Linked DNA regions of Homo sapiens. The protein of the gene in region 1 interacts with the protein of each later gene in a pairwise test. Each region holds a gene or a part of one and is shown on either strand. Other genes may lie near its edges.

Region 1 (3,500 bases):
ACACTCAGAAGTTGTGCCTGGTTCTTTCTTCATGTCTAGATGCTTCAGCACCTTCAACTTCCCTTCACAAAAACACCAGTAGAGGCCAAGATTTCTTATTTTTCCTCAGATTAATTTTTATGGTTATCAGTGTTACTGTGTGTAGTTTTCATTTTCTTTCTTTTCTTTTTTTTAAAGACAGAATTTCTGGCCAGGCACAGTGGCTCACGCCTGTAATCCCAGCCCTTTGGGAGGCTGAGTCGGGCAGATCACCTGAAGTCAGGAGTTCAAGACCAGCCTGCCCAACATGGGAAAACTCCATCTCTACTAAAAGTACAAAAATGAGCCAGGCATGGTGGTGGGCACCTGCAATCCCAGCTACTCAGGAGGCTGAGGCAGAAGAATCACTTGAACCCGTGAGGCAGGTTGCAGTGAACCGAGATCACACCACTGCACTGCAGCCTGGGCAACAGAGCAAGACTCTGTCTCAGAAAAAAAAAAAAAAAAGACAGGATTTCCCTCTGTCACCCAGGCTGGAATGCAGCAGTGCAATCGCAGCTCACTGCAGCCTCGACCTCCTCAGGCTCAGGTGATCCTCCCACCTCAGCCTCCCAAAGTGTTACGATTACAGGCATGAGCCACCATGCCTGGCCTTTTTTCTTTCTCACGCTGTCACCCAGGGTCTCATGTTATTATCCAGGCTGAAGTACTGCGGCACCATCACGGCTCACTGCAGCCTCAACCTCCCATGCTCAAGCAGTCCTCTCACCATAGCCTCCCAAGTAGCTGGGACCACAGGTATGTGCCACCATGCTCAGCTTATTTTTTATTATTTGTAGAGACAGGGTCTTGCTATATTGCTCAGGCTGGTCTCAAACTCCTGAGCTCAACTGATCTATCCACCTTAGCCTCCCAAAGTGCCTTTTTTTGTGTGTAGAGATAGGGTCTCACTCTGTCACTCAGGCTGGAGTGCAGTGGTGTTCTCATAGCTGACTGTAATCTCAAACTCCTGGCCTCAAGCAATTCTCCTGTCTCGGCCTCCCAAGTAGCTGGGACTACAGACAGGCACCACTGCACCTTGCCTAGTTTTCATTTTTTCTTTTTCTTTTTCTTTTTTTCCGAGACAGTCTCGCTCTGTTGCCCAGGCTGGAATGCAGTGGTGCAATCTAGGCTCACTGCAACCTCCACTTCCCGGGTTCAACCGATTCTCCTGCTTCAGCCTCCCATGTAGCTGGGATTACAGGAATGCACCACCACAACTGGCTACTTTTTGTATTTTTAGTAGAGATGGGGTTTCCCCATGTTGGCCAGGCTGGTCTTAAACTCCTGACCTTAAATGATCTGCCCACCTCGGCCTCCCAAAGTGCTGGGATTATAGGCGTGAGCCACTGTGCCTGAGCCCATTTTTCATTTTCAATTGGTGATAATTTGTATCAAAAATATTCATTAGGAACTGAATAAATTATGGCATAGTTTTTTAAATTATTATTATTATTACTATTTTTCTTTTAGTGCCAGGAATAGCAGTGTTGTGGGTTGAATTGTGTTCCCCAAAAAAGATTTGCTGAAATCCTCACCCCTGCTACCTGCGAATGTGACATTATCTGAAAACAGGGTCTTTGCAGAAGTAATTAAGATGTAAGTTAAGATGAGGTCACATGGGAGTAGGGTGGGCCCATAATCCAACACGATTTGTGTCTTTCTTAAAAGAGAAGAGATACAGGGACAGATACACATAAAGAGGAGAATGCAATGTGATGACAGAGGCAGAGACTAGAGTGATGTATCTACAAGAATTGCCAAAGATTGCTGGCAACATCAGAAGCTAAGAGAAAGGCATGGAACAGATTCTCCCCTGAGCCTTCAGGGAGAGGATGACACCTTGATTTCAGACTTCTAGCCTCTAAAACTGTGAAAGAATAAACTTCTATTAGTTTTAAGCCACCCGGTTTGTGGTACTTTGTTACAGCAGCCCTAGGAAACTAATACAAGTAGTAAGACAGAAGAGTAAGATTTAAGTAAATGGTGGAGGCAAGCTAACAGGGTGAACACATCCTGTGTTGAGTAACGGTGATGCATTTACAAGTTGTTTCATTCTAAAAGAATGAAGTCACCCTTATAATCAAGGTCACATATTTCAATGACAATCAGACAAGGAATTAGCCAGTTTATCCATACAAAACGAATAATCCTTACTTACATCAAACCGATGTCCTAGTTTTTCTGATACTACACTCCAAGTAACAGAGGTCATCATAAGTGATTATTTCTATAAATAAATCAAATGGAGTATTCAAATAGTGATTTTTCGTGAAATACTGCTATAATCAATGTGTCACCGCCTTGGGTTTCTGTCATAATGATCCTGTGGAATGTCCTTCATGGTCAAGGACTCCCTTCTGTTATATACTCTATACCAGCATTCTACCTATTTGTACATGTCTGCCTTCCCCACTAAAATATAAATTCCATGGAAACAGGAATCACATCTGATCTTCTCTCCATTCTATCTCCAGCCTCTAAAACAACGTCTGTAACCTCACAGATAAAATACACATATACTGGAAAAACTAGGACACAGGTTTGCTTTCAATAAGGACATGTATGAATATAAACTTGCTTATAAGTTGGAATATAATGAATATAATGATAATCAAATACAAAACATGGCCGAGGACAGTGGCGCATGCCTGTAATCCTAGAACTTTGGGAGGCCGAAGCAGGTGGATCACCTGAGGTCAGGAGGTCGCCACCAGCCTGACTAACGTGGTGAAACCCTGTCTCTACTTAAAAAAAAAAAAAAAAAATTGGCATGGTGGCGAATGCCTGTAATCCGAGCTACTTGGGAGGCTGAAACAAGAGAATCACTTGTACCTAGGAGGCGGAGGTTGCAGTGAGCCAAGATCGCACCACTGTACTCCAGCCTGGGCAACAAGAGCGAAACTCCATCTCAAAAAAAAAAAAAAAAAAAACAGTCCAAGAAAAACAAAAATTATTAGGTGTTGACTCCCAGTTAAACATGTAGATTGACCTTCTAAGGTGGCAGCAAAGAATACAAAGGAACGAACCATAAGGTTAAAGAGATGACAGAAGCGATTATAGGACATGAGGGATTTCCACAGGTTTTACAAGAAAGGAAAATGAAGTGGCCTAACAGGTTTGAGGAAATGAAAAACTTCAGAGTGGATACCAAAGGAAAGTGGACCACACAGAATTCCAACCCTGTCAGACAGGGTATTCACGCCACTTCTGCTGTCCCGCTTCCAAAATTCTGGTAGCTAGATGGTACCTCTCAGGCAGGAGACTGGAAAAGTCTTCTCAGAAAACAATAAAAACTAACACATCTCCAGATTCTGAGACCTGTGCCTTACTCTCCATCAATGAAAAAGCAGACTTGTCCCTAGATTACCCTAAAGTGAAGCCCCTGAACTCACAAGTCCTGCTCAGACACAAGGAGCTTCCAACTAATTTCTCAGTTACACCTTTTTTTTTTTTTTTTTTTGAGACAGAGTCTCGCTTTG
Region 2 (3,500 bases), on another chromosome or scaffold:
AAATTGTAAAATATATTCTTCATTTTTCTATTATCTTTACATTTAAAAATATTGATATCTATCTTTAATTTGTCTCAAATTTATTCATGTATTTGGTGTGTTGGGGATCCATATTTATTTTGTACCAAATAGGTTGTTATTCTTTGAGTCGAATAGTCTGTTTTGGATGATTTGAAATGCCCCATTGCTCATATAGGAAGTTCTTTTAGGTGCAGGAGCCTGTTTCTGGGTTTTCTAATCTACTCCTTTGACCTATTTGTTTTTCTTTTTCTTCTTCCTTTCCTTTCTTCTCTTTTTTTTTTTTTTTTTTTTTTTTGACAGGGTCTCATTCTGCTTCTGTTGTCCAGGCTGGCATGCAGTAGTGTGATCACAACTCACTGCAGCCTTGGCCTCCTGGGCCAAAGTGATCCTCCTGCCCCAGCCTCCTGAGTAGCTGAGACGACAGATGTGTGCTACCACATCTGGCTGATTTTTAAATTTTTGTAGAGACAGGGTCTCCCTATGTTGCCCAGGCTGGTCTTAAACTCCTGGGTTCAAGCAGTCCTCCTGCCTCAGCTTCCCAAAGGGATCACAGGTATGAACGATCGCACCCAGCCCTATCTTCTTTACCAACATCATACAAATTTAATTATTGTTACTCTATAAGACACCACATCTATCAAGACAAATCTTCCCTCCTGTTTTTTTTTTTCTTTACAACTTTTAATTTTTATAGAGACCAGGTCTCTCTCATGTTTCCCAGGTTGTTCGCAACTCCAGGTCCCAAGTGATTCTCTTACCTGGACCTCCCAAAGTGCTGGGACCACAGGTGTGAGACACCACACACCCCTCCTATTTTGTTTTTCCAAAATTGTCTTGAGTGTTCTATCCCATAAATGTTAACATCATCTTATTAATTAGCTTGAATAATTATATCAGAATTTTTATTTGAATTACATTGAATTTACAGTTTAGGGGAAACTGACATAATATTTATCTTCATTTATATAGGCTTTCTTTTCTAAAAATAAATTTTATTGTGCATATTTAAGGTGTACAATATTATGTTATGGGTTATGAATAGTTAGTAAAATGGTTACTATAGTGAGGCAAATTAACATATTTATTATCTCACACAGTTACACATTTTTGTTTGTTTGTTTTTGTGGCAAGAACAGCCAAAATTTACTCTTGCAACAGGAATCCTAAATACGATACAATTTCATTACCGATAGTTCTTATGTTGTACATTAGATCTCTAGGCTTGTTCATCTTACATATCTGCTACTTCATATTCTCTAACCTACATGTCCCCATTTTCACCCCCTTTCCTGCCTCTCATCACCAGTGTATCTACATATTTGACCTTTTTAAATGACAAAAGAGGATTCCACCTATAAGTGAGATCATGCAATATGTTTCTTTCTTATTTAACTTGGTATAATGTCCTTCCAATTCATCAATGCTATGACAAATAGCAGAATCTCCTTTTTTTAAGGCTCACTAATATTCTGTTGTGTATGTGTGCATATTTCACAATTTCTTTATTCCATTGGTGTCCATCCATTGATGGACACTTAAGTTGTTTCCACCTCTTGGCTATTGTGAATTGTGAATATTGTGGCAATGAACATACGAGTGCAGAGATCTTTACGAAGTGGTAATTCCATTTATTTTGTGTATGCCCAGAAGAAGGATTCCTGTGTCATGTGGTATTTCTATTTTTAATTCCTTTAGAAACCTGCATATTATTTTCTGTAATGGCTGTAACAATCTACATTCCCACCAACAGTGTATAAAGGTTCTTTTTTCTCCATACCCTGGCCAACATTTGCCATCTTTTGACTTTTTGAGAATAGCCATCTGTTTGTGAGTGGTATCTCATAATAGTTTGATTTGCATTTCCCTGATGATTAATGGTGTTGAATACCTTTTCATATACCTTTTGGCCATTTTTATTTCTTCTTTGGAAAAATATCTATTCAGGTCCTTTGCTCATTGTTTAATTGGATATGTGGATCTTCCTTTATGTCTGCCAATGGTTTTTCTTCATAGAATTCTTACACATTTCTTGTTAAATATATTATTTGATATTTTACAACTTTTGTTAGAATTGTGAACAGGTTCTTTTTTTCGCATTGGATTTTCAAACTGCTTATTGATGATCAATAAGAAAGAGACTGTTTCATTTCATTCTTGTATCTAATCACCACCCTGATCTTTTTTATTCATTCCAATGGTTGTTCAGTCATTTATCTTACATTTTCCTGGGAAATTATTATACCATCTATTTTAAAAGAAAGACTGAGGATGTGCTGCCTTTTTTTCAAATATATAATTCTCTTATTTTACTTTTAAATGTGTTTGATAATGTATTCTAGAATAATGTTGAAGATTGCCAGTGATAATAGGATCTATGTCCAACTTATCTCTTAATTAGATATCTGCTTAATAATTATGAGGCTTGCTATATATTTCTTATGGAAACATTTTATCAGTTTATAGACTTTTTCTTATTTTTCTTGATATTCAACAACAGGAATGGTTGTTAAATGTCTTCCACGGCTTTTTCAGCACATATCATTGTGTTTATAAAGCTTTTCTCCTATTTGTTAATGAATTATATTAATCTTTTTCCTAATTTTGAATTTCAAACTATTTTTGGATAACCAGTATAAACACCACCTAGCCATGACTTGTTAAAATTTTTTATGTTTTTTAAAAAAAACACATTTCAACTGATTTTATTTAACCTTCTCTCTTCACACATGCACATCGTTTTTTCTTTGATTTTAAAAAGTTTCTGTGCTATTTATAGAATGAATTAGGTAATGTTCCATATTTTTCTATGTATTTGGGAATTTTATACAATGATCCCCCAAAAACTGTCAGTTTTTGTTTTATTTCTTGTTTTCTGTTTCACTAATTTATGCATTTATTCCTTCTGTTGAATTATTTTAGATTTTTCTGAGACTCTTGACTTGGAAGTTTTATTTATTTCTGATCTTTCTCACTTTTTAATATCACACTTAAGTCTATTTATATATTTTCTTCTCAATAACATTTAGCTTTCAACTCCCAAAGGCGTGTGTGTGTGTGTGTGTGTGTGCATGTGTGTGAGTGTGTGTGTGTGTGTGTTTTCATTGCTATTTCTAACTGGTTTGAAAATTCAGTTTAATTTTTTTATCCCAAGAATTATTTAGAAGTGCTTTGTTTTTTCTTAAGTGGATAGTTTTTATGATTAATTTGTACTTCTATTCACTCCAATCTAAGAATATGGTCTATATGATGTACTTTTAAAAATTTATTGAGCTTTACTTTGTATCTTCATACATAGTTAATTTTACTAATGTTTATGCAGCTACTTGAATAGAATCTGTATTCTGTTTATTGGGTCCAAAGTTTTATTTATTTATAATTTACTTACAATTATATGAATATGAAATCATCATCATATATATTATCTAAACTTTCTGCACCAGAGATTTGCAAACTTGTTCTGTAAAGAGGCAGATAGTAAG
Region 3 (3,500 bases), on another chromosome or scaffold:
GCTCCCCACCTCAGTTGGGGTTCAGGTGCCTCCACCAAAGCTGCCTGCTCCCCCTGAGGACTTTGGCCCCATGATGTCACAGGCTGGTTGCCATGGGGACGTCAGGTAATGAACCAGCCCAGGGTGAAATCACAGGCTGTTCTTCGCCCAGCTGGGACTGGTGGTCACGTCACCACTGGCAACTGGAAAAACACAGAGTGTCATGTGGGGTGGGGGCTGGGAGGCAGCCCGAAGGGACCGCTAGCACCTGCTCCTGTGGCTCCCTCTCCCAGAAGGACACCCCCTTTCTTTCAGTCCACACCCTAGTCTCCTGACCTCAAGGTCAGAATTCCCTTCTCAGACCTGCTCCCTCCCCCACCTCCTCTGTCCACAAGAGTGACAGGCTTCTGGCTGCCATGGCAACCTGGAGAGGGCCATCTTGATTCTTCAAGGAGAGGGTGTCAACCAGATGTCTCCTCCATCCCTCTGTCTTCAACCAGAGCTTCTCCTCTGCATCTTGAGGGTGCTTCCTGCCTTCCTATGCCAGCTCCTCTTCAATCTGCTTTAGAGTCTAACCTCCCAGACAGTTCCTCCTGATGTCTAGCCTAAACCCCTCTTGTTGCAGTTCCCATACTGGTTGGTCTTCTCTACTTGATCCTTGGGTGAGTCTGCAGCACAACCCCTCAGGCTCCTCTCGTCTGCTTCAGGGCCTTCCAACTCCTTTAAGCTGTTCTCTGGGGCTCCGTGTCCCAACCCATTAGTCACCATGGTTGCCATCTACCCCAAGAGTGCCTCCCAGGGCTCTGCACCCCAGAGGGCAGAGAGGGACCGTGTTTGACTCTGCAGCAGCCCAGGGAGGGTAAATATCCTCTCAAAACCACACAGAAACTGAGCAGCAGCCTGGGGTCAAAGCGTCCCCTCATGCTCCTCCCCGGCCAGCCTCGGGCTTCTCTGCTCAGCTTCTCAGGGCACCTGCAGCCGATGCGGCCCCTCTAGCCAACCATTGCCCGGGTGTGTACTGCCCAGCTGTGATGTGCCGGGCTCTGCCCTTGGCTCTGAAGAGAACGTAAGCGGCCAAGGCATTCCTCTTACGGTCCCTGAGCTGGGTTTAAGTCCCCGCTTCTCACTTTCCGCTGCAGGGGGTGGGCATGGGACTTAGCCCCTGTGAGCCTTGGATTCTCATCTGTGAAATAATACCAGCCCAGAAAGGGCTGCAGCAAGGAGGAAGCACCTGCCACAGCAAGCAGTCCGTAAGCAGCAGCCGCTCCACCCCTCTCCCCTCAGTGTCTCTCTCTGGACAATGGGACACATCTTGGTCAGCCACTCCTCTGGTCCTGTCCCCAGGGCTGGAGCTGGCTCTGGAGGCTCCGCAGAGGGAAGCCCTTGAGGGTGAGTCCTTGGCCGCTCTGCCTGTTGAGTCACTGCCAGGGGAGCAGGCCACAGAGCTTGGCAGAGGCCAGGCCTCGAGTGGACTGAGTGTCCCCTCCTCCCCAGGACATTTGTTTACAGGTCACCTGAGCCGTGACAATAGCTCATCTGTGGGTTGGCTCAGCTCAGAGCTATCCAAGGGGGTCCCTTTCTCTCCCCGTGCAAGGATGGAGAGAGAAAATGGGCTCCTCCCCAGGACTTCCACACACCCCAGCTCCTCCCCACTTCCTTCCCCAGGCTCCCTCCCATCCTGTGACCTGGCCTCTGGGAACATCTTGCTCCAGCCTCACCTCCCACAAGCAACCTGCCCAGATTGGCCTCTGCTGGATTAGGTACCTCACCTGTGGTCCTAATGGCCAAAGTCTGGCCTGCAGTGATTTGCCGCCACTGTTTACTGAGCAGGTGTGACAGTACTGTGTCAGGTACTGTCTGTCCTAGGCCTGTTCACCCATGATCTCTCATTTAACCCACACAACAATCCTGCAAAGTACATGTTATGCCCATTTTACAGATAGGGAAACGGAGGCTCAGAGAGGATAAATCACTTATGCAAGGTCACCTGCTAATAAGCAGCAGAGATGAGGGTCACACTTCGGCCCTTGTGAAACTCCAAAGCTTGTGCCCCAACCACTAAACAGTGCTGATCTCCAGACAGGGTCCTCGGGGCATCCTTCCAAGGGTTCATGCATACTGCCTCCCCCATTAGGCTACTCCACGGGCAAAGCTGTACCTCTCTCATCAGACTGTGAGCTCCCGAAGGGCAAGGTCCCACCTACCCTTTCCTCAGTGCCTGGTGTAGGACTGCTCAGGACTTGGAAACTATGGGTGGCTCTGGTCGGCCCCCTTAGAGCTTGTGCCTTCACCCAGACATGATCAGATGTCTGAGTTTCCAGAAGAAAATTCTCGGTCTCTAATTTCTACTCTCACCCCCGACCCCACCGGCCCCCAGTGCATTGGATACCCCCAAGGTGGGGCCAGGAGGCTGATCAGTTGGCCTGGAGGAGAGGGCTGGGGCATGAGTGAGGAGGCAGAGTGGTTATGGCACCAAGGGCATGGAGCGGGTACTGAGCCCCTGGAACTGGAGAGAAGGGGGGCAAATATTCCTCTCTGTTCCATACAGACTGCCATTGGTTGCAGAGCCCCCAACAAATAGGGACCATTCAAGTGTTCCAAGAGGTTGTTTTTCTAAGCACTGGCCATATACTTAGCACCTCTTTTTGTTTTTGAGACAGGGTCTTTGTTGCCCAGGCTAGAGTGCGGTGGAGTAATCACAGCTCACTGCAGCTTCGACCTCCTGGGTTCAAGCCATCCTCCTGCCTCAGCCTCCCAAATAGCTGGGACTACCAGCACACACCACCACAGCTAGGTAATTTTTAAAAAGTTTTTTGTAGAGATGGGGTCTCACTATGTTGCACAGGCTGGTCTTGAACTCGTGGGCTCAAGCGATCCTCCCGCCTCAGCCTCCCAGTATTTAGATTATAAGCGTGAGCCATAGCACCTCTCTCTCTATAGGGACGTAAGAAAGCAAAGGACGGGGTTTCCACACTCAGGCTCTGGGGTCACATTGACCTGGATTCAAGTCCTGCCTCTCCATGCCCTGGCCATGTGACCTGAGGGAAGACCCTCCCGTTCTCTGAGCCCCACATCCCTTGTCACAGGGTTGAATGAGAACTAACTAGGTCAGGAGAGCAAAGGCTCAGCCTAGCTCAGGATAAGCGCTCAACAAACGGTAGCTTAAAAATAGATAATGAATGCAAAATAGCTCCTGGAAACAGCATTTGTTGCCTTAATCTGGTCCCAATCACTTTCTCAATGTCCTCAGCACCTCGAGTGCCTGCCACCCGCTGCCTTTCCCATGAGGCAGGATGTGGCTTAAAACCTCTGTAGGTTTCCCCTTCCAGCCATGAAGGCCCACATTAGCTGTCTGCACAGACAGGTAATAAAAATTAAAGGCCGGGTGCAGTGGCTCACACCTGTAATCCCAGCACTTTGGGAGGCCGAGGTGGGAGGGTGGCTTGAGGCCAGGAGTTCGAGATAAGCCTGGGCAACATAGTGAGAGCCTGTCTCTATTATAATATATACAATATTAAAAT
Region 4 (3,500 bases), on another chromosome or scaffold:
TAATTTAAAAAATTAGCCTGGTGTGGTTGTGCATGCCTGTACTCCCAGCTACTTGGGTGGCTGAAAAAGGAGAATTGCTTGAACCTAGGAGGCGGAGGTTGCAGTGAGCCAATGTCGCACCATCGCATTCCAGCCTGGGCAACAGAGCAAGACTCCGTCTCAAAAAAATAAGAAGAAAAAAAAAAGAACAGTTTAAAAAAGGCTGAAAAGTTAACAGTCTTAGGGACCCTATAGGACAATATCAAGTGATATGACGAACATGTCTCAAATCAGAGAAGGAAAAAGGAATGAAGTGGGAAGAGAAAGAAATCATGACTAAAATAAGAAGTCTCCAAATTTAATCGAAAAAAAATTCAATCTACAGATTCAAGAAGCTTGGTAAATCCCAAAAGCAGCCAAACGTAACACACACTGTGTGATTCCTTTCATATAAAGAATAGGCAAAATAAACCTATGGTGTAGAAACGAGAGAAGAGGTCATCTATTTGACTAGGAAGGTTTATTTAAGTGTATACATTTGTTAAAACTCACTGAATTGTACACTTCTGGTCCATGCATTTCACTGTATGTAGATTTTACATCAAGTTAAAAAACTACCTTTAGCAGAATGTCTTAAAAGGGTATTCATTAGTTTAAGGATATTATCTAACATATCGATATTAATAGACTTTTTTTCTCTCTTTTTTTTAAAACGGAGTCTTGCTCTGTTGCCCAGGCTGGAGTACAGTGATGGGATCTCGGCTCACTGCAACCTCCGCCTCCCAAGTTCCAGCAATTCTCCTGTCTCAGCCTCTGAGTAGCAATTACTTTTACACCAACCTAATACTTGGGTCAAAAGCACTCTAATTGGCTGGGCACGGTGGCTCACACTTGTAATCTCAGCATTTTGGGAGGCCAAGGCGGGCGGATCACTCGAGGTCAGGAGTTCGAGACCAGCCTTGCCAACATGGGGAAACTCTGTCTCTACAATACAAAAATTAGCTGGGCGTGGTGGCACGTGCCTGAGACACAAGAATCGCTTTAACCCAGGAGGCAGAGGTTACAGTGGGCCGAGATGGTGCCACTGCACTCCAGCCTGGGTGACAAAGCAAGACTGTCTCCAAAAAAAAAAAAGCACTCTAATTAATCCAGGGTACAAACAAATTACTATTCAATGTAAACAAAATTCATGGCATGGATCATTCTAAGATCCTAAGAACACTCACCTTGTTTGTTCAATTTTGTCCCAACTTCAGGGAGACTACAATAAACAACATCTCCCAACGCTTCCTAAATAAAACAAGACAAAACCAAAAATCTCTAAGAAGTTATAACTAAACCCTCCAGTAAACAGAATAAGCCAAACACTGAATCCCCTATAATGAAGATTTAGTATATATTTTATACTGGAGGGGCTACATTCTTGAGTTTTCCTTAAAATCCTTTAAACATGTAAAAACTACTCTCAGTCAGGTGTGGTAGTTCACGCCTGTAATCCCAGCACTTTGAAAGGCCCAAAGTGGGTGTTATCACATGAGGTCAGAAGTTCGAGACCAGCCTGGTTGACATGGTGAAACCCAGTCTCTAATAAAAATACAAAAATTAGCTGGGTGTGGTGGCAGGCACTTGCAATCCCAGCTACTCAGGAGGCTGAGGCAGGAGAATCACTTAAATCTGGGAGGCAGAGGTTGCAGTGAGTTGAGATTGCACCTGTATACTCCAGCCTTGGCGACAGAGCAAGACTCCATGTCAAGAATAAAAATAAATGGCTGGGTGCGGTGGCTCATGCCTGTAATCCCAGCTCTTAGGGAGGCAGAGGTGGGAGGATAGCTTGAGCCCAGGAGTTTGAGACCTGCCTTGGCAATATAGCAAGACCCTGTTCTCCAAAACTAAGTAAAATAAAATGATTTTAAAAAACTATTCTCAACTCAGGAGCTGCAAGAGACCAGCCGCCAGCCAGATCTGGCTCACAGGCTTTAGCAACCTAACACAAGCCTCCTGCCCCACACAAGACTGCTAGCTCTTTGTTTTATTTGGTTTTGAGACAGAGTTTCTCTCTTGTTGCCCAGGCTGGAGTGCAGTGGCCTGATCTCAGCTCACTGCAACCTCTGCCTCCCAGGTTCAAGCGATTCTCCTGCCTCAGCCTCCCAAGTAGCTGGGATTACAGGTGCCCACCACCATGCCTGGTTAATTTTTTAAAATTTTTTGCTAGAGATGCAGTTTCACCATGTTGGCCAGCTGGTCTTGAACTTTTGACCTCAGATAATCAACTTGCCTCGGCCTTCCAAAGTGCTAGGATTACAGGTGTGAGCCACTGCGCCCGGCAAACACTGCTAGCTCTTCTGGGCATGAACATATTTGGTGTTCTTCCACCTCTGTAGTTTTATGTACACCATTGCCCCCAAAGCATTTGCTGAAATCCTGCTCACTGATTCTACAAATCATAGTCCTCACACCTTGTACTCCCTGAAGTCCCTGACTCCAGAAAGAAGTGGTCTCTCCATCAGGTAAGTGAATTACAACCCCACCGTTCCGATGCCATCATGTAATGTTTGCAAGTCATTCTCATGTAGGTAATTCCCCTCACAAATAAACTCTAGGAGGTAAGGACGACATCTTACACAACATCTCAAAAACTATCCAACACTGGGCCTCATAGTAGGTATACAGAGATGCCAAGGAAGATATAATTGTGATTATCAACACACAAGCATCTTACATGTCTGAGGAATTTTGTACAGTCACGTGCCGCCTAATGGCATTTTGGTCAACAACAGACCACATATATGACAGTGGTCCCATGAAATTATAATATAGTTAGTATCACTTGTCCAAAATGCTTGGGAGCAGAAGTGTTTTGGATTTCAGATTTTGGAATACTCGCATTATACTTAATACATGAGCACTCCTCATCCAAGATTCTGGAATCCAAAACGCTCCAATGAGCATTTTCTTTAAGAGTCACGTTGGTGCTCAAAAAGTTTCAGATTTTTGGAGTATTTCAGGGATTAGAGATGCTCAACCTATGCCATATTTTTACTGTACCTTTTCTGTGTTTTGATAGGCCAAGTGTGTTACGATTGCCTACAGTATTCAGTACAGTAACATGCTGTACAGGTTTGTAGCCCAGGAGCAAAGGCTGTACCATACAGCCAAGGTGTGTAATAGGCTGTACCATCTAGGTGTGTGTAAGGGCACCCTAGGAGGCTCACAGAAGGACGCAATCCCCGAGGAGGCAGTTATCAGAACATAGCTCCATCATTAAGTGACACGAGTGCATTCCCATCAGTTAACATCCCCCCTTCCCCGCCTCACCCAATACATACATCCAGTTGAAAATCACTGAACACGCTAGGATTTGGCTTCTCATTTTCTCTTAAACAGTATCGCCATATGGAATTGAGGGGAATTTACAGAGAAAAGATGGGCTGAATAAAAGCCTTCCCTTTGTGTCATCTGTGCCTATTGAGGTTTTCTTTCTTCCCGTCCTCCTGGTCACGTGTGTATCACTGGACCCACAA

Evidence for each region. The genes of interacting proteins can lie anywhere in the genome.
Region 2: the proteins of SFI1 (region 1) and LPXN interact in a two-hybrid assay, tested with the Homo sapiens proteins (one large-scale study listed by BioGRID).
Region 3: the proteins of SFI1 (region 1) and FAM131C interact in a two-hybrid assay, tested with the Homo sapiens proteins (one large-scale study listed by BioGRID).
Region 4: the proteins of SFI1 (region 1) and GCSH interact in a two-hybrid assay, tested with the Homo sapiens proteins (one large-scale study listed by BioGRID).

The regions. Positions count from the first base shown.
Region 1 is NC_000022.11:31,503,036-31,506,535, reverse strand, and holds part of SFI1 (protein SFI1 homolog), read right to left. Parts: intron 1-3,500. UniProt on the Homo sapiens protein: Plays a role in the dynamic structure of centrosome-associated contractile fibers via its interaction with CETN2.
Region 2 is NC_000011.10:58,555,357-58,558,856, reverse strand, and holds part of LPXN (leupaxin), read left to right. Parts: intron 1-3,500. UniProt on the Homo sapiens protein: Transcriptional coactivator for androgen receptor (AR) and serum response factor (SRF). Contributes to the regulation of cell adhesion, spreading and cell migration and acts as a negative regulator in integrin-mediated cell adhesion events.
Region 3 is NC_000001.11:16,067,152-16,070,651, forward strand, and holds part of FAM131C (protein FAM131C), read right to left. Parts: intron 1-3,500.
Region 4 is NC_000016.10:81,086,396-81,089,895, forward strand, and holds part of GCSH (glycine cleavage system H protein, mitochondrial precursor), read right to left. Parts: intron 1,270-3,500; coding exon 1,206-1,269; intron 1-1,205. UniProt on the Homo sapiens protein: The glycine cleavage system catalyzes the degradation of glycine. The H protein (GCSH) shuttles the methylamine group of glycine from the P protein (GLDC) to the T protein (GCST).